Linked DNA regions of Homo sapiens. The protein of the gene in region 3 interacts with the protein of the main gene of each other region in a pairwise test. Each region holds a gene or a part of one and is shown on either strand. Other genes may lie near its edges.

Region 1 (8,348 bases), on a different chromosome or scaffold from region 3:
CCGCCTCCCACCCACGGCCGGCAGGAGTGCTGTGAGCACTGGCGCTCTGCATGGAGGATGCGTTGCACGGGAGGCAGGTCTCCCCCTGCCTGCACACTCTTTCTGAGGCCGGCTTGCCGAGTTCTGTGCCTTCTAGTGTGGCTGCTGGAGTGGGTGGGCCCCTCTGTCCAGCAGAGCAGTCAGGACCCCTTCCTGGTTCCGCTCGCTCCACTGGACTCTCTCATGTGGTGGAGCCCTTTGCCATCCACAAGGATCCCAGGCATGGAGGGTGCTCCCACTGCCTGCCTTAAGGATGGAGGGGAAAATTGCCCCCTCTCTCTGTGAGGATGACAGCTGCAGCCTTTGCTCCCATGCAGGCCCTCTAGGAAGTTCCAACAGCAAGGGACTTCAGCCTCTGGTGATAAATCTGAGATGTTAAAAAGTTGGTGGGAGTGAGGCTGGGTGGACACGGGCAAGGGCATCCTCAGATTGCCTGTGGTGTCTGTGTCACGTCAGCATCCTCTCTGGGCCACGTGCCACCACCTTATTCTCTCTCCCATGGTCAGGACCCTCTGTCCAAGTCAAATTCAAATAAGCACTTCCTCCCACCCACCTTCTAACTTCTTGTGTTCCTCTCCTAAGAAGGTCAACACATTCTCGTCTGTAAAGTCCCTGCTTTCCATTCTCCCCGTCCCTAAGCATCAACTCCCCAGACCCTTCCCCCAGCCCCACACACAGAAGTTGCAACTCCCAAGTCTCTTCTAAGGAATTGTGCATTTCTCTCGCCTCTAGAATTAGCGGTGAAGGAAGGCAGTTATCTGCCCACATGATTCTGCTGTGGGTCAGATGGAAAGGGAGGGAGCTGGGAGTCTGGACGTGATGGGTGGGGTGGGGAGGAGATTCAGGCGATGCCCTGGGCTGCAGTTTGCTGCTCCCACATCCACTCTCACAATCTGACACAGCCTCCCTGCAGGTACTGCTTTCTTGTCCACAGGCTCCACTGGTTGTGCAGTAAAGGTTCCTATCCCTTGGCCGGACGTGGTTGCTCACACCTGTAATCCTAGCACTTTGGGAGGTCGAGGCAGGCGGATTGCCTGAGCTCAGGAGTTTGAGACCAGCCTGGGCAACAAGGTGAAACTCCATCTCTACTAAAAATACAAAAAATTAGCTGGGCGTGGCGGCATGTGCCTGTAGTCCCAGCTACTCGGGAGGCTGAGGCAGGAGAATTGCTTGGACCTGGGAGGGGGAGGTTGCACTGAGTAGAGAGGGCACCACTGCACTCCAGCCTGGGTGACAGAGTGAGACTCCATCTCCAAAAACAAAAACAAAGAAAAATCATTCCTATTCCATGAGCCCTGTTTCTGTGTAGGAGCAGAATGTTGTCTTTTTTTTTCTTTTTTTTGAGAGGGAGTCTTGCTGTGTCACCCAGGCTGGAGTGCAGTGGTGCCATCTCGGCTCGCTGCAACCTCCGCCTCCCAGGTTCAAGCAATTCTGTCTCAGCCTTCCCAGTAGCTGGGACTATAGGCACTCATGCCACCACGCCTGGCTAATTTTTGTATTTCTCGTAAAGGCAAGGTTTCACCATATGGGTCAGACCAGTCTCGAACTCCTGACCTCAGATTATCCACTCACCTTGGCCTCCCAAAGTGTTGGGATTGACCCACAACGTGACTCACAGGCATGACCCACTGTGCCCAGCCCCTAGAATGTTGTTTTTATTCTGCTCAGAGGTTGTTTACCTTTTCCCAAATCTTGAGCTATGCATCACAAAGCCTAAGAAGGCCTCTGTAACCTCGTTCCTCGTTCGTACCTGCGGAGTTCTCCACCTGGTTGGGGGAGGGAGACAGACATGGGCGAGGGTATCCCCACCACTGCTTCAAATCACTATGCCCTACTGGATCCCCACCCTCTGCTCTGCTTCATGCTTGAAGCCAACAGACAGATGCTGTACACCCAGCTGCTGCCCCTGGCCTCCATGGTCATGGCAGCCACGCTGTCGGGGGCTGTACCCAGAGGCTGCTTTCATGGCCGCCCCATTTTGGAGGTGAGGGGCCTGCGGCTGAGCCTGCACAGGGTCACAGTGGTCCTTCTGGTCTCCTGAGTCTCTCTTGGGGGCTAACTAGCCCGGTCTCTGGAGCTTCAGGAACCCGCCAGCCAGAGACAGGAGATGTGAAACTCGTGAGTGTTGGGAAATCAGCAAGGCCTGGGGAAGAGGAAAGCCTCCAGGCCTGAAGCAACATGCTTCCCCTTGCACCAGCTGCCCTTTCTGAGGAATGGGCCTGTGGTTCTGTGGGGAGGGGGCACCAAGTGCCCGCCTCATGCAGAGTGCTGCATCCTTTACTGAGCTTGTTCAGATTGACAACCTCTCTTTCTCCTCACCAGAGGCCACAGAGAAGAAACTGCGCAGGCTCTGGAGACAGACTGGGTTTGAATCCCAAGTCTACCTTAGGCAGTTTCTGTAACATCTCAGAGCCTCAAGGTGGCAAATGGCCAAGGACAGGGGCTCTGGACTCAGATCAACTTTGGAAGAGTCCTGGATTCACTCCCTACTTGCTGGGTTCAGGGGGCAAGTAGTTCACCTCTTGGAGCCTCAATTTTCTCTTCTGTAGAGTAGGAGCAACAATAGTGCCAACAATTAAGACAGTCAGTAAGAAGTTCTTAGCTTGTGCTCTCTGGACCATAGGAAGAGCTCAAGGCATCGTGTCTCTTTATGTTTCTCAAAGTCACCATTATTGTCATCCAGGTTTCTTAGCTGCTTTGTCTGTCTTCTAAATGAGCTCCATGGATCCTCCATCTTGGCCACATTAATTGGATAATTCTTTCTAAAGGAGCCTAATATTTAGTGATACCTTCATTACAACTGCTTTTTTGTAGATTTTTCTTATCCTGAGTGGGGTGAACATCATTAAGAAAATTAGGCCAGTCTTGGTGGCTTACACCTATAATCCCAGCGCTTTGTAATGCCAAGATGGGAGGGTCGCTTGAGACCAAGAGTTCAAGAACAGCCTGGAAAACAAAGCAAGACTCCATCTCCACAAAAGAGTAAAAATAAAAAAATTAGCCGAGCATGGTGGTGCATGCCTGTACTCCCAGCCACTTGGGAGGCTGAGGTGAGAGGATCACTTGATCCCAGGAGTTCGAGGCTATAGTAAGCTATAATTGTGCCACTGCGTTCCAGGCTGGGCAATAGAGGGAGGCCCCATCTCTAAACATAAAACAAAAGCAAATAAAAAGGAGAAATTAAAATAAAATAAAGTAAAATTGCTTCTACTTTTAAGGATGATCTGGAATGTTCCTTTTCATAGGTGGCATGTGTTTTGAGAGATAGCGAGAGAGAGATTGATTGATCCACGTCAGGAATGCCCTCCCTTTTACTCCATCCTCCACGGCCCTGCTTAAATCCCAGTTAATTCCATGACATCTTCTGTGCTTACTCTACTTCAAAGTGATTTCTCTCTCTCTTTCTCTTCAAATGGCTTTTTATTGTTCACTGCTATGCTAGTGATTTGAAAGACCAGGTGACCTCTCACCCGTGATGGAGCTTTTGTACAGCAGAGCTGTGCTTTATACAGAATGATCAGCTACAAAGAGCTCTTAGGTGCGGCCCAGGCACAATGGCTCACGCCTGTAATCCCAACACTTTGGAAGGCCTAGGCGGGCAGATCACCTGAGGTTGGGAGTTCCAGGCCAGCCTGGCCAACAGGGATAAACCCCGTCTTTACTAAAAATACAAAATTAGCTGGGCGTGGTGGTGCATGCCTGTAATCCCAGCTACTCGGGAGGCTGAGGAAAGAGAATCGCTTGAACCTGGGAGGCAGCGGAGGTTGCAGTGAGCCGAGATGGCACCATTGCACTCCAGCCCGGGCAACAAGAGCGAAACTCCGTCTCAATAAAAAAAAAAAAAAAAAAAGAAAGAAAGAAAGAAAGAGAGAAAAGAAAAGAGTTCTTAGGTGTGAGGCCCTGCAAGGAGCAAATGGCCTGGGCTACCTTCACTGATGCCCTCAGCACCTTCTAAGGTGAGGCTAACACCAGCTCACATTGATGAGCTAGTGCTGGGCCTGGAGCAAAATGTGTATTTCATTTAAGCTGCCCACCAGCTTGTGAGGCAGGTGCATTACCGTGACGGCGGGGCTCCTCAGAGTGTGTATAAGAAGAAAACTGTGCATGGCCAAAGCTATGCTTGAAAACCCTCAGGAAGGCACCACCTCAAGGACCAACATAGCATCACTTAGTAAAGGCAACAGCCTTGGAACAGATGACTCGTGTGTGTGTGTGTGTGTGTGTGTGTGTGTGTGTGGCATTAGATGAAGTAGTAACTTGTGTTTAGAGGTTGCCTTATTGCACAAATATAGTTGCTTTTATACACTGGACTCACCCTCTGCCAATAAGTTGTTCAGTTATGAGAAATGAACAATGTCTGAAACTAAGAAAACAGCAAATTCTCACCTCCTATCTCCAGGGAATGTGCTCTTTGGCTAGAATATATGGCAGAATCAATAGTGAATAAAATATATTGTGGAAACAATAGTGAATGGAATATATGACACTACCAATAGCAATTGTTAAGTTTTTTTTCTTTTTAATTTTTCTTTTTAGGTTTGTCTAGTTGAATGCATCTAAGTTTTATGTGCATATGAAGAATCACTGTTTTCCTATTATACAGATTTGGAAACTGAGATTCCCAGCTTTTAACTCCTTGCCTAAGGTTGCATAGCACAGAAATAGTCATATCAGAAACTGAGCCCTGTCTGCACAGTGTAGCACCTTGTTCAGCCCTGGGTGCCTGACTCACTCACTCCTTGAGGACCCTCTCATGACAACTGTAAAGAGGCAGCTGAAAGAATCCCAGTCTTTGATGGTGGGAGGGGAAAGTGGTTGGAAAGCATTAAAAAAACATGCTCCAGCAGTTCACTGATGTGGGAAATTGTCTGTATTTCAGGTCAACCGTCAGGATAGATTTTGGTCTGCAAAGCCCCAGCTGAGCAAGAATGCAGTGTAGACATATGGGTGCCCAGAGTTTAAAGGAAAATTACTCAGACTCACATTGGAGTTTAAGACCCCTTCATTGCCTCTCCTACTGGGTTGGGGTGACTGGAGCCAGTGGGGAATTACCAACCCTGTGGCTCTCTCTGCATCTCAAGCCTCCAGAGCTGGGCTTCCTTGTTTACTTATTTAGAGCCCAGCAGAGGAAGTGGTAAAGGAAACTAGCTGAGTCGTTTTCTGAGAAGAGACCATATTTGTTCGCAGAGGAAGCCGTTGCTTTCTGGGATCTGGCTACGCCAGAAAAGACATCGGCTCCAACAGGGGTGTTCCACAGGGTAGCTGGGAGTTGGAAGAGCCAAGAACGCCTCCGAGCTCTGGATTTGAGCTTCTCTGCCCATGGGTGAAGCGCCCATGCTCAGCTTGTGAGCTTCTTCCCGGGAGAGCAGCCATGGCACTGAGGAATGTGCCCTTTCGCTCAGAGGTCCTGGGCTGGGACCCCGACAGCCTTGCTGACTATTTCAAGAAGGTAAGCCTTGCTCTTGTGTGAATGGTCATGATGCTAGTGCCCTTGGTGGGCTGAGCTGAGGCTTGACGATGGAATTGGGGCAGAATGTGGGAGGTGTATAAGATAGCAATGGAACCCTATGGCAACTTTACTGGTTGAGTGAGCGCCATATAGACCGCTGAGTTTTCCTGACCATGAGTTCCGGAGAGAAGGATGGGAGCAGAAGCCCTCAAATGAGTATGTGCCTATTATGTGCTAGGGTTTGAATTCGGTGTCTCACAGGCACTGTCCCATTTAGCGCTCCCTACTATGTTGTGAGGTCAGCATTGTTATCCCCTTGACTCAGCTGCAAAATCAGCTCAGGGAAGTGAAATGGTCCGAAGCCCTAGGGACTACATGTGATAGAGGCAAGACTCAAGCCACACCTATCTGGTTTTAAAGTCCATGCTCTGAGATGCAGAGAACTGTTGTAACTGCTAATGAGATCAACGCTACTTACTAGAAAGGGGAGACGTGGTGTCCTGGAGGCAGGAGAAAGAATAGGCAGGGTGGGAGGGCTGGATAGAGGACTATGATGAGCAGTGCCAGACACAGCATTTGGGCTTTCACTGCTCACGACCCTAAGGGGGGTCCTCAAGCTCCCGCCTGGGGCAGTCTCCTTGGAGCCTTATGAGAGTCTTGTGAAGCAGGACAGAAAACTGATGTGAGCCCCAATTTATAGCTATGAAAACTGAGGCCCCTAGAGGAAAAGAGGCTTGTGGCGGTGCTGGGACCAGAGCGTTGCTGTCTTATCTTCTGGACTTAGAGGAAAGGTTGAAGGATCCCTGTGCTTGGTCATTGGCAGAAGGGGACAACGCATCTGCTTGGGCAGATCTCAAGCCACATGACTTAGTTATAGTCCCTCTACCCTGACCATGTGGTAAGATGACTTGTGCGAGACGGTTAAGCTTCTAACACCCTCATCCCTGCAGGCTGGCATCGGATTCTGTTGATATTCCAGACTGTCATAAAGATGAGATTGTAAAGCTAAGATGGTAGAAGTCATCTAATTCAGCTTCGTGTTTTTCCTGGGGAAATTGAGATTCAAGAGGGTAGACGAGGTTCCCTAGGACGTATAGCCAAACCTGGGGTCTATGCATTTCCGAGGCATTTATAGTCACAGCTGTTCTCCCCCAACCTGAAGAAGAAAATGAGAACATGTTGAACTAGGTGTGGTATGGTAGGGGTACAGTTCACAGATCCTGTTTTTTGCCATATTTTGTGCTTTCATTTCTGTTATTTTCCTTCTGCAAGGTCATAATAAACTTAGATTTCAGCAAATATTGTTGCGCAACTGGTTTTTTGAAGGATGTTTCTAAATATCTTGCTCAAATATAGACCAAATAAGATAGGGCAACAAGGTAAAATTTGCCAAGAGGGAATAAAGTGGCATGTTACCTTGATAAGGGAAAAAGAAAGGAATTGAGAATTATGAAGAGAAAGACTTGGGACGGGCTGAGAGGCACAGATAGGCCTAACATTCAGGTGTGACCAGGAGAATTATACAATCCAATTGAGCAACAGAGAATTGATCCCTAAAACTCCCATCAGTACAGGGAGATGGACCACGGGTCAGGGATGGTACAGGAAGACCTCACTGCCTGAGCTGGGGGAAGGGAGAGTTTTCTTCCTGGAGATCTCAGACCCCAGGACAAATCTACAGCACCCAGGCAGGTTCCTTCTTCTGCCATAAATGGACTGAGGGAAGAAACTAGGAGACTGAGGCAAATCTGTGATCCTGGAAGTTCTAGTCCCTCCACAGACTTGGATAGAAACCCTTCAGATTCTGAGTACCTCAGCCCCCTGAAAGAAACTACCAAACGAATGGACCGCAGAGTCATTTGGGAATGGATCTTAGCTGTCAAACATGACATGTAAAGAATTGATCTGCAGATGCAAACTCTACCCAAGTAGTGGGGTCAGGCCTCCCTTGGAGACAGCTCTCGACTCAGCTCTGAGGTCGGACACACTTTACCCTGGCTCTGCCACCTGCTAGCTTGGCGACTTTCCTGTAGTTGCTTTGCCTCTCTGTGCCTCAACTTCCTCATCAGTGAAATAGAGATATGAACAGTAACTAACCCAATGGGTTGGTTGTGAGGATTAAAGCAAATGATGTGTGCAAGGCACTCAGCAGACAAATGGATCCTAATGCGTGTTCCTTCTGCCCTTTTACCTTCTCTATTAACTGGCTCCTAGCTGGGGACACCCATGCAGACTGGTGGGACTTTGCGTCTTCTTGTCTCTGACATGGGTACCTCGTCCTGTGTCTGGAATATAAGCTCCTGAGGACAGAGACCATGTTACATATTTGTTCAATCTCTCCAATTCCTTTTGACTTGCAGGAGAACATCCTTGGGTCGTGCAGTGGAGAGGCACTGGCTCAGAGCTGTGTGTCCTAATCCCAGGTGGGGTCCCAGCTGGTATCCCAGCTCACTGTGTGACCTTAGACCAGCCTCTTTCCCTCTAGAGGCCTCAGTCTTCCTTACTACAAATCCAGGTAACTTTTCTGGACCAGTGCCTACCAATGCTGGATGCCATAGGAATCGTCTAGGGTGCTCCTTAAAAATACAGATTTGAGGTCCACAAGCCTAGATCTTGCTGGAGCAGAATCAAATGCCTGGGTCCCAGTCTGCAGGACTCTCTGCTGATCTAGACACAAAGTTAGCACTCTTCAAAATCATCTGGTTTATCTCATAATGATAACAGTGAGAATGATGAATTAAAGGCAGTTGACTCTTCCAAGAACCACTTACCCCCCACTGCCTGTAGATAAAGGGGATACCAGGGCTCCATAGATGGGATGTGCTTTCAATATCAACTTCTAAGTCAGCTTTCTGAGTGT
Region 2 (7,441 bases), on a different chromosome or scaffold from region 3:
GCCAAGCCCTCCGGGGTTACAAACCCCTAGCAGAGGGGTCCGTGTGGTCTGGCACAAGTGAGAAAGCCACAAGCCAGGTAGGTTAGGGTGGCACAGGAGGGGAGGCCTAATATAACCTGCCAGGAGGTAGCTAAGCCTTACCTCTTTATTGCTACCCATCCCAAAGCCACACTCCCTCCCTCAGTGTTTTAGGCTTAGTGAGGGTACATTTTGTGGAGCACTTTGGTCTTTTTGGAAGTTTCCAAGATGTTTCAGTACAGCCAGCCTTGATCGTTCTTAGGCACATGAGGGAGGGGCTCACACACAACAAGACTCAGAAGGGACATCTTCCTGTGGTGGGTTCATAGCTGGATACAGGTCCCCAACTCCCTGGCCCACATCAGGGGACCAAAGGCCTAAAAAGGAGTCTAAATTAAGGAGGCAGGAGTTTCCCATGATTTCTGAGGGGTTCTTGTGCACTTCTGAGCCAATAAGCTAGAAGTAGCTGAACCTCACTGGATTTTACGGGTGGGGAAACTGAGGTAGGGAGAAGTCTCATGGCTTGCCCAGAGCCACACGCTGAAGGTTGACCCCAGGTCCTTTTGCCTGCACTCCACTTCTCATACAAAAACACGCAGGTGGCCGGGCACAGTGACTCACGCCTGTAATCTCAGCACTTTGGGAGGCCAAGGTGGGCGGATCACCTGAGGTCAGGAGTTCGAGACCAGCCTGGCCAACATGGTGAAACCCCATCTCTACTAAACATACAAAAAAAAAATTAGCCAGGCATGGTGGTGGGCGCCTGTAATCCCAGCTACTCGGGGGGCTGAGGCAGGATAATTGCTTGAACCCGGGAGGCAGAGGTTGCAGTGAGCTGAGATCGCGCCACTGCACTCCAGCCTGGGTGAGACTCCATCTCAAACAACAACAACAACAAACATTCAGGCTGGCATGGTGGCTCGCGCCTGTAACTGCAGCATGTGGGGAGGCAGAGGCAAGAGGATTGCTTGAAGTCAGGTGTTCAAGACTGGCCTGGGCAATATAGCGAGAACCTGTCCTTACAGGGGCAGTGGGGTGGGGCAGCAGGAAACAACACCCACCACCACCAAACATTCAGAAAACAGAGGAATAGAGATACTACAGTCAGACAGCCAAGTCCCTCCATGTGTAGCCCAGAGGAAGTGCCCCTTCCTGGATGCTCTCACCTTGCACTTTGTTGCTGGCCCGCTGGCGAAGCCCTGGTGCCCGTGAGGGGCTCTGGTCCTTGGTGTCATGGGTCAGCAGCTCCTGCAACTCCTCAAAGAGCTAAAAGACAAAAGACACACATGCCTATCTCAGTGAGAGATGCTACCAGGTCCCAGCTGAAGGTAGGACCTTAAGTTGTGTTAGGAAATACTTTGGAAATAACAAGATGGTAAGAAAAATATTGGCCGGACACGGTGGTGCGCCCCTGTAATCCCAGCACTTTGGGAGGCCAAGATGGGCACATCACGGGTCAGAAGTTTGAGACCAGCCTAGCCAACATAGTGAAACCCCATCTCTAGTAAAGATACAAAAAATTAGCCGGGCGTGGTGGTGCATGCCTGTAATCCCAGCTACTCGGGAGGCTGAGGCAGGAGAAATGCTTGAACCTGGGAAGCTGAGGTTGCAGTGAGCCAAGATCGCCCCATTGCACTCCAGCCCGGGTGACAGGGCGAGACTCTGCAAGAAAGAAAGAAAAGAAAGAAAGAAAGAAAGATAGAAAGAAAGAAAGAAAGAAAGAAAGAAAGAAAGGAAGGAAGGAAGGAAGGAAGGAAGGAAGGAAGGAAGGAAGGAAGGAAGGAAGGAGAAGAAAGAAAGAAAGAAAGAAGAAAGAAAGAAAGAAAGAAAGAAGAAAGAAGAGAGAGAGAGAGAGGAGAGAGAGAGAGAGAGAGAGAGAAAAGAAAGAAAAAGAAAGAAAGAAAGAAAGAAAGAGAGAAAGAAAGAAAGAAAGAAAGAAAATTCATATCCCTTTCATCCACCTTAAGAGATAAGATGTTCCAAGCCCAATTGGCTCCCCTGCCTGCTCTTGCCCTCCCAACCGATAACAATGATCCTGGATTTAGAGTTCACTGTGGCCGCCCATGTCCTTAGCCTGTGTCTCCATGCAAAAGGCTGCGTTGCTTGTTTTGAAATAATATTAAGTGGTATCCTAGTACATGCACTCTTCTGCCGCTGCTTTCTTCTCTTGAGTTTAGATTTGTGAAATTCAGCCTTGGTGAGGTGTGCTGAATGGTATTTGTTAGCCTTGCAGATGAGGAAACTGTAGCTCCTACAGGTTAAGTGCTTTGCCCAAGGACTGATCCAGAGGTCAGGCACTAAGAGCCGTTTTTTTTTGTTTGTTTTTTGTTTTTAATACGGAGTCTCACTCTGTCTCCCAGGCTGGAGTGCAGTGGCGCGATCTCTGCTCACTGCAAGCTCCGCCTCCCGGGTTCACGCCATTCTCCTGCCTCAGCCTCCTGAGTAGCTGGGACTACAGGTGCCCACCACCATGCCCAGCTAATTTTTTTTGTATTTTCTTTTTTTTAGTAGAGATGGGGTTTCACCGTGTTAGTCAGGATGGTCTCGATCTCCTGACTTCGTGATCCACCCGCCTCGGCCTCCCAAAGTGCTGGAATTACAGGCGTGACCCACCACGCCCGGCCAGCCAAGAGCCGTTTTTTTTTGTTTTTGTTTTTGTTTTTTTGGTTTTTGAGACAGAGTCTTGCTCTGTTGCCGTTGCCCAGGCTGGAGTGCAGTAGCATAATCATGGCTTACTGCAGCCTTGACCTCCTGGGCTCAAGCAATCCTCCCACCTCAGCCTCCCAAGTAGCTGGGACTACAGGTGCACGCTACTATGTCTGGCTAATTTTTTCATGTTTTTGTAGAGATGGGGTCTCACTGTGTTGCCAGGGCTGGTCTCAAACTCCTGGGCTCAAGCCATTTTCCTGCTTTGGCCTCCCAAAGTGTTGGTATTATAGGCACGAGCCTGAGAGCCAGTTCTGATTCCAAATCCCTTTTCTTTTAAAAACATTTTTTTCCTTTAAATTTTTTTTTATTTTTTATTTTTGATAGAGACAGGGTCTCACCATGTTGCTCAGGCTGGTCTGAAACTCCTGAGCTCAAGCAATCCGCCCACCTCGGCTTCCCAAAGTGCTGGGATTACAGGCGCGAGCCACTGCACCTGGCCCTTTTCTTTTGCCTACACTTCTCTGAAAGACACAGATTTTCTTCCTCCAAGACGGACTGGATTTTCTGAAGGGGGAGGGTGGAAGGGAAAGGCCTTGTTCCGTAACAGGGGCCAGGACCAGAATCTTCTGCAATCCACGGCTGGGAGTAGGGAGCCAGGAGGGCATGACCCCGAGCCCCAGGCCCCATGGCACCTCCAGGGGGTGGCAGAGAGAGAAGGCTCTATGACATCTGGTTAGAAGGAGCCCCTCACCCCTCCACCTCTGCCCAAGAATTCATCCTTCCAGGCTTTGCGCAAACCCCACCTTCCCCCTGGATTTGAGACACTTGTAGAAAGAGGTAAACCTCTCTGGCTAGGCTGAGAGTCCCTGGAAGGCAGAGGCCACCTGTAACCCTGGGAGTGCCAACCTGGCTATACACTAGTGCACACACAACTTATACATTGCCACAGACTGTTGTCACAGAGAGCTACAACTGATTCTCATGTCCCATTATGACAGTAGTGAATGTTTGAGGGCTTCCTCTGTGCCAGACACTGCTGTGGGGACTTTACTGCTGTAAATTCACTCAAGCCTTATAAGTCTAAGATATAGGTACCATTATTATCCCTATTTTACAGATAGGGAAACTGAGGTACAGAGAGATGAAGGCATTTGCCCAAGATCACCCAGCTAGTAAGTGGCAGTGCTGGAACTCTGGTTCCCTGTGTTAACCATGACCTATAGCACCCTCCCCTACAATGAGAAGGGTCCCTTGGAGGAACAACGGGGGGAGGCAGAGGCTGCCCCAGGCTGCCCGACCCTCACCTGGATGTTGAGCAGGAACGCAGTCTTGGCCTCTTCTATCACCCTCTGCCTGACTGCGGGAGTCATCTCCAGGGAGTTCATGCGGGAGCGGTAGAGCTGCTTGAACTTGGTGGCACTGGCAATGTTGGGGAAGGTGAAGAAGGCCAGGCCCTCGCCAGAGCTGGGCAGGTCCAGGGCTTTCTGGGCAATCTTTTTGAGCACCTGGCCCCCAGACAGGTCACCCAGGTAGCGGGTGTAGGCGTGGGCCACCAGCAGCTCGGGCTCTGTGCGCCCCACCTCGTGGAGCCGCTTCACATAGCGCTGCATGGCTGGTGTGTAGGGGATGACCTCCTGCCAGCGGGGCCCGTACCAGAAGGCCAGGTCCTGCTCCAGGGCAGCCTTGCGGTGCAGCTCTTCTGGGAAGTAGACAGGGGCGAAGACTGGGCTCTCCTTGTTGCGCTCAATCTCCTCCTCCAGGGCCACATAGATGTGGTACAGGGAGGCCATCACCAGCTGAAAGCAGAGTGAGCAGGTCAGGCCGCCAGCCACATAGAAGACCCCCACCTCTGTCCGTCCCGTCCACTACTGCCTTTGGAAAGGCCCTCCTCACTTCGCAGCTGGGCTCTGACTCCTTCTGCCACCCCTCGCTACAATCCTCTTCACACAGCAGCCAGAGGGGTTTTTACAAGAGGAAAAGACGATCATGCACTTTCTCAGCCTAAAAACCTTTTACCCCACTGGGCAAAACAAGCAGCCTAATTGAATCCTTATATAAAGATCTAACAAACTGGCCCAGTGTGGTGGCTCAAACCCCTGTAATCCCTGCACTTTGGGAGGCTAAGGCTGGAGGATTGCTTAAAGCCAGGAGTCTGAGACCAGCCTGGGCAACATAGCCCAAAACCCACCTCTACAAAAAATTATTTTAAAAAACTAGCTGGCTGGGGCCAGGTGCGGTGGCTCACGCCTGTAATCCCAGCACTTTGGGAGGCCGAGGCGGGAGGATCACAAGGTCAGGACATCAAGACCATCCTGGCTAACAAGGTGAAACCCCGTCTCTATTAAAAATACAAAAAAATTAGCCGGGCGTGGTGGCGGGCGCCTGTAGTTCCAGCTACTCAGGAGGCTGAGGCAGGAGAATGGCGTGAACCCGGGAGGTGGAGCTTGCAGTGAGCTGAGATCTCGCCACTGCACTCCAGCCTGGGCAACACAGCGAAATTCTGTCTCAAAAAAATAAATAAAAATAAATAAATAAATAAATAAACTAGCCAGCTGGACGCGGTGGCTCACGCCTGTAATCCCAGCACTTTGGGAGGCTGAGGCAGGCGGATCACGAGATCAGGAGTTCGAGACCAGCCTGGCCAAGAGACCAGCCTGGGCAATATGGTGAAACCCTATCTCTACTAAAAACACAAAAATTGGCCAGGCATGGTGGCAGGCACCTATAATCCCAGCTACTCGGGAGGCTGAGTCAGGAGAATTGCTTGAACCCAGGAGGCAGTGGTTGCAGTGAGCCGAGATCACGCCATTGCGCTCCAGCCTGGGCGACAGAGCAAGACTTTGACTCAGAAAAAAAAAAAAAAAAAAAAAAGCCAGGTATGGCTGTGGGGGTGCATGCCTATAGTCCCAGCTACTCCAGAGGCGGAGGCAGGGGTATCACTTGAGCCCAGGATTTCAAGGTTGCAGTGAGCTGTGATCATATCACTGTACTCCAGCTTGGGGAACAGAGTGAGCAAGACCCTGTCTCAGAAAAAAAAAAAAAAAAAATCCAACAAAGGAATTGCTATTCCCATTTTACAGAAAAGGAAACTAAGGCTCAGAGAGGGTATGAGACATGGAGGTTGCACAGCTAGTAAGAAATGAAACTAGATTGAAGACCGGGCATTGCCAGGGACCCACCATGGCTCAGGAGAGGGGAACAGCTGAAATGAAAGTGCTTAAAGGAGATTGGCCATGTGCTTCTGGCTTTTGACCTCTGCGTAACCAACTACAGGGCACAATTCTCCTTCCTGGAGGCCTATTCTGAACCCCACCACCTCTGCATGCTGGGCTGAGGCAACAGGTCTTGAGTGTACCTTGGCTTGGGGCACTAACTCCCGTTACACATTAATACGCCCGTTTAAATTTGAAGGAGAACAAAGTTAAGACATTTAGGTTGGAGTTTCTGAGTTATTTCTGAGCCACAAACATTCAAAGCAGCTCTATTCCTTGAGGGGACAGAAAGCCAGGCAGTCTGGTACAAAAGAGCCTGGGTTTTTGAGTGTGACGGACCTGGTTCTTACCCAACTCTGCCAGTCCTTAACTGTGTGACCATGGGTGAGCCACTTGCTTTCTCTGGTCCCAGCTTCCTATCCTATCCTAGAGCAGATGATCTGAGGTCCGTGTGACTGTGCTAGCCAACTGTGCTAGTCAGTTCCCTCACCTGCCACATACTAGATGGGGCTGGTGTGAGGATTAAGTGAGAGGATCTGGGCCAGCACAGAGGGCAGCCTGGCACTTAGCGCTCACATGAGAAGGGCTGTGATAAGTGCCACGTCCACCAGCTTAATGTAAGTGAGCACTGGATTCTCTCATGGATCTTGGCGCCTCCTTAGAACCCTGTGACTTAGAGGCAAAATCCAAAGTCTAAGCTGGCTGGGGATGGGATATTCCAGCATTCACCTCCCTGCACCCACTGTCTCCAGTCACACTGCAGCAACTGGGTGTACCTCATCTTTTTAAGGGAGAGGGGAGGAGGATGAGGAAGACCCATTACAGGCCCAAGGACCCCACCCAGCCTGGAACCACAGATTAAATCTCTCCTCATTAAAGCATGTCTCGGCCGGGTGGTGGCTCACACCTCTAATCCCAGCACTTTGGGAGACCAAGACGGGTGGATCATCTGAGGTCAGGAGTTCGAGACCAGCCTGGCCAACATGGTAAAACCCTGTCTCTACTAAAAAAATACAAAAATTGGCCAGGTGTGGTGGTGGGCACCTGTAGTCCCAGCTACTTGGGAGGCTGAGGCAGGAGAATCGCTTGAACTTAGGATGCGGAGGTTTCAGGGCACCGAGATCTTGCCATTGCACTCCAGCCCGGACAACAGAGTGAGACTCTGTCTCAGATAAAATAAAATAAATAAAGCATGTCTCATGTTGGAAGTAGGGGGTGGCAGAGGGTGCAGATTGCAAAAGGGACTGGGATGAAGGTGGTGGGATATAGCTCCCTACTCCCCACCCCCACACCCTCTGTTCAACCTGAACAAGCTCTTCCCCACGCTGATGTTTTAACACCCAGTATCTTCCCGGTTCTTCATCAAGTGCTTTCCTTCTATTTGCATGAATTTCACAACAGTGCTGGGAAACAGCAAAATCAGTACCTGGCATATAGTGGGTGCTTAAGAAAACCCTGCTGTTGAAATACTCTTTTACAGATGGGGAAAACGTGGCTTAGGGAGATTAGATGAGGCACCCTCAGTCTCACTGTTAGAAAAGGGTTCTGTTAAGACTCCAACC
Region 3 (8,243 bases):
CACCCGCCACCACGCTCGGCTAATTTTTTTGTATTTTTAGTAGAGATGGGGTTTCACCATATTGGCCTGGCTGGTCTCGAACTCCTGTCGTCAGGTAATCCACCCACCTCAGCCTCCCAAAGTGCTGGGATTACAGGCAGGAGCCACCACACCCGGCTAATAAAATTAAATTTTAAAAAGTGTTTAAAGTCTTTTTGGCTGTACAGTTTTTGGGGAGGGAGGAGAGATAAAATTGGGCACCCTGGGATATTGGGAGAAATGCACAAAATCTGGCATTTAAAAAAAAACATGAAAGTAAGACAATTAGGGTCAGGAAGAGTTGCAAGGGAGGGGTAACAGCCAGCAGGGTTCTTTGACTGCAATAAGCAATCTAAGAACATAACATCAACAGAGAGCAGAAGCCAGGAAGGGAAAAATCCCAAGATGTGACTCTGCCACGGTATGCAAGTTCTAGCCTGTTAACCTTCGGGTATTAACGAGTAGTGCTGGCAATAAAATGGGCACCAATCACCATTTCAACTCACTGGACATTTTCTCAAGAATGTGCCTTATGCAAAGCACTCTGCTAGGTGCTTTGCAGAATCAAGAGTGGGATGACAAGAACCGTAACCTGAAGAGCTGATGGTCTGTAAGTTAATAACCATGTATATAACAGTAAAGGATATTGCCAGAAGAAAGGTACAGATAAAGAACTAGGAGGAAACAGTGGTCAGAACCTAACAGGAGTAGATACGTTGGCACATTTTTGTCATTTTCAGTCCCACGAGGGCTGAGACCTGTCTGGCTCAGTACTGAGTGAATGGAGAGAAGAGGCGGGAAATGGTACCTGAAGCAGGCCTAGGAAGTGGCCTCAGAGAAAAAGCAACAAGTAAATAAGAGGCAGTATCGACTGCAGTGGGCTAGGAATGGCGGGCGTACAGTGAATGGGGTCAGCCAGCAAAGCGAGGGAAAGCGGACTCCGGAAGAGCAGGTTAAACCAGGACGCAGCAAGTCAGAGATTCGGCACAGAAGCAAATGCTGACCACACTGACCACACAGGCTAATGCGGGAGGACTGTGGGCCCGAACAGGCCGGCTGGAGGATATGACAAACATGTGCGGAGAAGACCCGGGCCCGGGGCTAGCCAGCAGCGCGGTTCCGGCGCCCGCCGGCTCCGGCCACCGCCCCCTCCCCGCCTCCAGCACCACCCCCTAAGCGGGAGGAGGAAGTGCATCCAGAGAAGGACCCCGGGCGGTGGGGCTCGAGGGGCCTCGGCTGCCCCGAAACGCCGAGGTCTATCTGCGGTCTCGACCCTTAGTGTCCAACCTCCTTCCGGACCCACCCCTGCACCCCCTGGCCTCAGCGGCCCGGGAGGGCACCAGCCCTGTGCCTGTGTGGCTGCTGCACTTCCAGTCCTTCCGAGCGGCCCGCGTCCCCGCCTCTTAGGCTCCGGCTCGGGCCAGACGCGGCCCTTGGGCCCCTAGCCCACCGCCGCCACCAGCCACGCCGCAGCTCACCCCAAGCAGGCCTGCCCCGCCGGTGCGCGCGGCCCAGGAGGCGGGCTCCGCCCGGCAGCCGCCGCAAATGGCCATTGGGGCCCGGACCAGCCCGCGGGAAGCTGGGAGTGGGCGCGCTCCGGCCGGGCGGGAGGAGAAGGAAGCGGCGGCCGGGCCTCCCGACACTGGCCGGCGACTCCAGGGGGCTGGAGGACAGGAAGTTGAAACCCCCTTTTCGCAGCTGCGGCCCCGTGGCACCAGCTCCTACTGCACCAACCCGCCCAGGCCACAGGCGCGCCGGCGTTTCTGGTTTCCAGTTGAAGAGGGCAGGCGGGAGGGCGCGGGGCACGCGCGCTCGCGCACGCGGCGGGCGGAATCCCCCGGCTCCCGGGAGACCCTGCGGCCCGACCCTCCCCGGTCAAGCCATCCCCCGGGCTGCCGGCCCCTTGCCTAGCTCCGGGGTGCGTTGGGCTTGAACTTTACAGATCGCCAGACCCGAAGTTAAGGGGAGGAGAGGAATGCCTCTGCCACAACCCTGTCTACAAGAAGCGAGATGAGCACACCCTCCTCTGTTAAATATTGCAAGGTGACACTGGATCGCCTCCCACACAGGGATTTTCAAAAGGTCTGGCGGGGGGACTACAGTAAACAAGAAAGGTGTTTTCCCTGATTATTAGTTTCCTAGGGAAGAGCCCCTAAGGACTCTGCAGACGGAGGGGCTTTTAATCTGTGTGCCTGAACTCCAATCAGCAGCTACGCACAGAATTAGAAGTGTGTCCAAAAGGCGTTTCCGTAAAACAGAAACTTAATAATGGCGTGGCTCCACTCGCTCGGGTTCATTCATTTATTACTGTTTTCATTGTCCCCTCCTCCCTCCCACCCGGTCTCTCTATGAAACCGGAAAGGGAACCGCGTGGGGAAAGGGGTACTAAAAAGGGGGCATCCGCCTGAGGAGCGGCAGACAGAGGAGGACGGTGAAGTAGGAGCGCTGCAAGGAGAAAGGAAGGACACGAGGGATGGAGAGACAGCGAGGACCAGGGCCAAGGGCGGCGGGCGGGAGAGGGTTAAAGGCAACAGGAGACAAGGTCCTCCCTCCACTGCCTTTCACACTCCGGTTGCGGGAGAGGCCAAGCGAGAAAACCCAAATCTAGATGAAAACCGGGGGAGGGGAGGGGAGCACAGGTAGGCGATCTGGACTGTGGCATCTCTCCCGCCTTCCCTGTCGCGCAGACATCACCCTGTGCACACACATATGTTCTGTGTTATATAATCTATATAAAAGATGCCTATGTAGCCGCGGTTCACACAGGGGCACCCACAGACCTCGCGCTTCATGTACCCCCCCCCCCCCAGCGTCTCCTGCACCCGGGAGACCCGAGAACTCAGCGATCAGCTGGCTGCCCGCGATTCATCGCTCCATTCACGCCCAGGCAGGGAATACCGACATTAAGGCACTCCGGGAAGACGCGCAGGGCTCCCGGGAACAGTATCAGGCGAAAGCATCACGTACCAGTTTTCCTGCATCCATTGGATGGCTTCATTCTCGTTGAACTGCTTTTCGAATTCATATTCTTGTAAAGTCAACACTGACATGTTCATTGGGGCTGATCTTCGGAGTCGCTACGTGTTCTCTATACAAAATAAAATAATCTGTAAAGCGCTTGATTTCGAGTGTTCTCCTGTCTGCTTCCCCCACCCACCCCCCTAGGTCTTCCCCACGCCGCTCGGTCTCCAGCGGTCGTCTCTTCTCCCAGCCTCTCAGCTACATCCAGGGCTGAGCATTGCCTGCGCCTCCGCTCCCAGCTCCTCTCTCTGGGGCTCTCCTCCTCCCGGCGTCCGCATCCACCGTAGGAGGAAATGAATGCCTTGCGGTCTTAGTGCCCGCACGTTTGTCCATCACCCTTTTTACTCGTCTACAGGGAAATCTCCTCCCCCTCGTGCGATTTGAGAAATTAACCCTTGGCGAGGGAGTGTGCGAAAGAGCGCGACCTCTCTCCGCCCGGGGGGGACAGTTTTGTTTACAGCGAAGGTGGTTGGAAGAGTGGGGGAAGGGCGCAGAGAGAAAGGAAGTGGCCTGGAGGTCATCCAGATCCCCTAAGCCCAACCTCGTGGGCCGCCTTGCTTTGAATGAAGTTTCAGCTTGCAGGGCGCATCCCCGCGGCGCGTGGACCCGAGAGCTTGGCGAGTAAACGATTGGGAAATAGTAAAACCTGCCAGCTCTCTTGCAAGAGAACTCCGGGCAAATCTACGTTGAGATCACCAGTGAAGGGAATACGCTTCCCACCTCCTCGCCCTACCTCTGGGACCACCCCCACCCCTACCCCCACCCCCACCCGGGAGCTCTGGCTTAGATTCACGCTAACCCAGGCCCTGCGGACGGCAGAGCTCCTTAATCTCGTACAGACAGGGGATGCTGAGTGTGAGGATAGTGGATAGGCGAGAGAGGCTAGTAGCCGGAAGTGGAAGAAAGGGCTGGGTTAGGTGGAGGGTTTAGGTACCGGGAAGGGGGGGATTAATGAACAGAGGCAGAGTGGGGAAGGAAGCTGACAGGAGAACTGGACCGACTGGCCAAATGCAAAAACTTTATTTGCATGCATGAGAAATTTGGCTTTACTTGCTGTACTTGTAGGTAGAACAGAATATGTGAGGAGAGGGCTGAATGTACTGTTGACCCCTACTGGGCCCTCAGCCTCCAAGAGGAAAAACTATTTTCTATTCCATCCATCCCTCCACTCATTTCCCCCAAGAGTTTGGAAAAATGAAATATGAGACATGGAAGTATCTAATGATGTAATTGTAAACTTTACAAAATAATAAGGAGCCCTGCTTTTAAAAATTAGGTGGATATTAGGACCAGAAAGAAAATTCCCCTTCTGAGAACATCCCCCCACCTCCCCAGTAGTCCAAAAAGGGTACTTTCATTCAATTTAGATGCCTCTAACCCACAAAAAGTGGGAACTGGGAGAAAAATTTTTAAAGGAGGAAGGGACCGGCCGCGGTGGTGGCTCACAGAAGTAATCCCAGCACTTTGGGAGGCCGAGGTGGGCGGATCACCTGAGGTCAGGAGTTCAAAACAGCCTGGCCAACATGGTGAAACTCCGTCTCTACTAAAAATATAAAAATCAGGCAGGCGTGGTGGCGGGCACCTGTAACCTCAGCTACTCAGGAGGCTGAGGCAGGAGAATCGCTTGAACCCGTGAGGTAGAGGTTGCAGTGAGCCAAAATTCTGCCACTGCACTCCAGCCTGGGCGACAGAGGGAGACTCTGTCTCCAAACAAACAAACAAAAAAAAAAAAGAGGAAGGTCTAATGAGAAAGTAAAGAAATAATTTTTAAAATCCAGTACAATATATAGATTAAAGGGCTAGCCTAGTTGATTAGCAAATTAATGTATACATTGACACTGCCAAAGATTCTGTGTAGGGACTGTCCTCATCTCCCCCATTAAGGGTTGTCTTTCTTTTTTCTTTTTCTTTTTTTTTTTGAGATGGAGGAGTCTCGCCCTGTTGCCCAGGCTGGAGTGCAGTGGTGCAAACTCGGCTCACTGCAACCTCCGCCTCCCAGGTTCAAATGGTTCTCTTGCCTCAGCCTCCCCAGTAGCTGGGATTATAGGCAAGCACCACCACGCCCGCCTAATTTTTGTGTTTTTAGTAGAGATGGGGTTTCACCATGTTGGCCAGGCTGGCTGTGATCCACCTGTCTCAGCCTCCCAAAGTTCTGGGATTACAGGCATGAGCCACCATGCCCAGCCAAGGGTTGTCTTTCTAGAGACCTCTACAGTACAAGTCTACGTCACTTTGAAGTAAGGCCCAGGCCAAAACTCTTGGCAAGATTGGGCTGGAAGATAGGTGTGGCCAGATAAGAAAGAACCATTTTAGCACGGTGCCTGAGCCTGTGAATAATCAATAAATATTTGTAAAGTGAATGATTCATCAAATAAATTAAGGTAAGAAGTGAGAAAGGAATCAAGACAGAAAATCCACTTTGGGTGGCTGAGGCAAGACAATTGCTAGAGACCAGACTGGGCAACATAGTGAGGCTCCATCTCTACAAAAAATTAAAAATTAGCCAGGTGTGGTGGTACATGCCTGTAATCCCAGTTACTCTGGAGGCTGAGATGGGAGGATAGCTTGAGCCTGGGAGGTCAAGGCTGCAGTGAGCCATGATCACACCACTGCAGTCCGGCTTGGGTGACAGAGTGAGACCTTATCTCAAAAACAAACAAGCACTGTCAGTGACTTTGAAAACTGGTGACTCTGTATGGAAAGCAATTTGGCAGCCTATATGATAATTTCATTTATTTTTTAGAGATGGGGACTTGTTATGTTTTCCACGCTAGGACTATAGGCACCCAGCATATATCACAATTTTAAATCCACACCATTAATTCACCAGAATTATTTTTTTTTTTGAGATGATGTCTCCCTCTGTTGCCCAGGCTGGAGTGCAGTGGCGCGATCTCGGCTCACTGCAACCTTTGCCTCCTGGGATCAAGTGAGTCTCCTGTCTCAGCCTTCCAAGTAGCTGGGATTACAGGAATGTGCCACCATGCCCAGCTAATTTTTGTATTTTTAGTACAGACAGGGTTTCACCATGTTGGCCAGGACGGTCTTGAACCCCTGACATCAGGTGATCTGCCTGCCTCAGTCTCCCAAAGTGCTAGGATTATAGGCGTGAGCCATCGCACTTGGCCTACCAGATATATTTTGAGTACATACTCATCTGAGCTCTTGGGACTCACAAATGAGACAAACAGGGCTCTTGCGCACTTGGAGCTTACATTCCAGAAGGGAAGACAAAATAATTTCTTAGAGAATGAAATGCTAGGATTACAATTTAACAGCATGACATGAAGGCCTGGGAGTGCTCATTTAAACCTGGAAGGCCTCAGGGAGAAGGACTTTGAGTTGAGACCCCGCTGGCAAAGAGCCAGCCACCTCTTGCAGAAGTGTTACAAAGAAGAATGAGCAAGTACAAAGGCTCCTAGGAAAAGAATAAATTTGCGGGATTGAGGACAAAAGGCTGGTGTGGCTTCAGGCCATCAGTAAGGAGTAATTGAAAGAAACAGGTTGAAGAGACAGGCAGGGGTCAGATCTTGGCCACAGGTAAATCAAGATAAGGTGTTTAGATTTTATTCTCAACTGCAGTGGAGTGGAGGAGGATAAAAGAATGTTAAACCGAATAATAGCATGATAATTCCTAGTAAATTCACTGCTATGGATATACTCACCGAAACATTCCGGATATATGTCTAAGATATTCAGCATTGGGCTGGCATTATGCTTGTAATCCCAGCACTTTGGGAGGGCGAGGTGGGCTGATTGCTGGAGCCCAGGAGTTCAAGCCCAGCCTGGGCAAGATGGTGAAAACCTGTGTCTACAAAAAAAAAAAATACAAAAACATTAGCTGAGCATGGTGGCATGTGTCTATATTCCCAGCTACTCAGCAGGCTGAAGTGGGAAGATCACCTGAGCCTGGGGAGGTCAAGGCTGGAGTGAGCCATGATTGCGCCACTGCACTCCAGCCCGAATGACAGAGTGAGACCTTGTCTCAAAAAATGACAACACCAACAAAGAAAACCCCCACAAATATATTCAGCACTGTTTATAATAAAACACTGAAAATAATAGTTTAAGGGATAATTGGAAGGACAGCCAAGAAAGGAATGAGGTCAATAGACTCAAGTCAATGTGATTCATTGTCAGTCCTGGTGGGCTACCTCTTGACAAAAGCAGAGGAGGCAGCCCCGCTTACAGGCTATATAGCAAGGTTTTATAGGGCATATAACTGGGTCAGGGTGAAGGAAAAAGAAAAGGCCAGGGAGTAGGGGATCCTTTGTGCCAGGTGTCTGACCGCTTCCTGGAGTTGTTTTTCTTGCCAGTTCTGTTGTGTAAGGTAGACTTCTTGACCGCATCCTGGAACAGCTGGCCTCGGGTCCGACAGTTACAGGTGGGGCTTTGGGGCTTAGGTCTATGGGAGCGGGAAACAGTCCAGTTGGGTGGACCCTAACATTCCAGCCTTTTAACAGATGATAGAGAAGGGGCATTGATTTCATCAGACTGCTTCAGGCTGAGAGTGGGCAGGGGCTAGGGGAAAGGCTGGAAAGTGGAGGTTGGCTTTGGTTTTGAAAGTGTTGATACTCCTGGAGTAACATCATGACCTGTATGGTTCCATGGGCAAAGGCATGGATACGATTCTGCAAAAACTGGGTGAAGAGGAGTATTAGGCAAGGACCTAAGATTAGGAGGAGAAAAAGGATTACAGCAGGTCCAAGGAGAGAGGGTAGCCAGGCGGCCCAGGTGCTGAGAGATCAAGAGGGCCACGTAGAGGAGCTGCTTTCCCTGATCTTTTGGGCTCGATCTTTGAGATTTTGTTTGTTTGTTTGTTTGTTTTTTACTGCATCCTGAACTAAGCCTGACTGGTTAAAATAAAAGCAGCATTCTTCATCTAGGAAAATGCAGAATCCTCCTTTGTCGGTGGTAAGTAGGTTGAGACCTCTCTGATTTTGTAAGGCGACTGCCGCTAGGGAGTCCAGCTGAGCTTGTAAGGGGATATGGAAGTTGCAAGGTTGTCTATACCATCTGAAAGGTCTTTTGATAAGGTTTTATGGTAATAAGAGGAGGTTGCGATTCCTGCTACCCCTGTACCTGCGGCCACTGTGATGCCTAGGTCTACAAATAGTGGGATAAGTTGTATGGCCTGGCGCCTGCTGTGTGGGATTTGAGTATTTAGGGTTTGGAGGGGCAGGTTTTCTCCTGGAGCTATGTCT

The links.
Region 1: the proteins of ELOVL6 (region 3) and LCP2 interact in binary tests that used the Homo sapiens proteins (3 or more experiments, as listed by UniProt).
Region 2: the proteins of ELOVL6 (region 3) and HMOX1 interact in binary tests that used the Homo sapiens proteins (3 or more experiments, as listed by UniProt).

Annotation. Positions count from the first base shown.
Region 1 is NC_000005.10:170,294,674-170,303,021, reverse strand, and holds the start of LCP2 (lymphocyte cytosolic protein 2), read left to right. Parts: upstream 1-5,244; 5' UTR 5,245-5,410; coding exon 5,411-5,488; intron 5,489-8,348. UniProt on the Homo sapiens protein: Adapter protein primarily involved in signaling pathways within T-cells, as well as other immune cells such as platelets, mast cells, and natural killer (NK) cells.
Region 2 is NC_000022.11:35,383,707-35,391,147, reverse strand, and holds part of HMOX1 (heme oxygenase 1), read right to left. Parts: intron 4,464-7,441; coding exon 3,972-4,463; intron 1,285-3,971; coding exon 1,185-1,284; intron 1-1,184.
Region 3 is NC_000004.12:110,195,262-110,203,504, forward strand, and holds the start of ELOVL6 (very long chain fatty acid elongase 6), read right to left. Parts: upstream 3,355-8,243; 5' UTR 3,075-3,354; coding exon 2,986-3,074; intron 1-2,985. UniProt on the Homo sapiens protein: Catalyzes the first and rate-limiting reaction of the four reactions that constitute the long-chain fatty acids elongation cycle.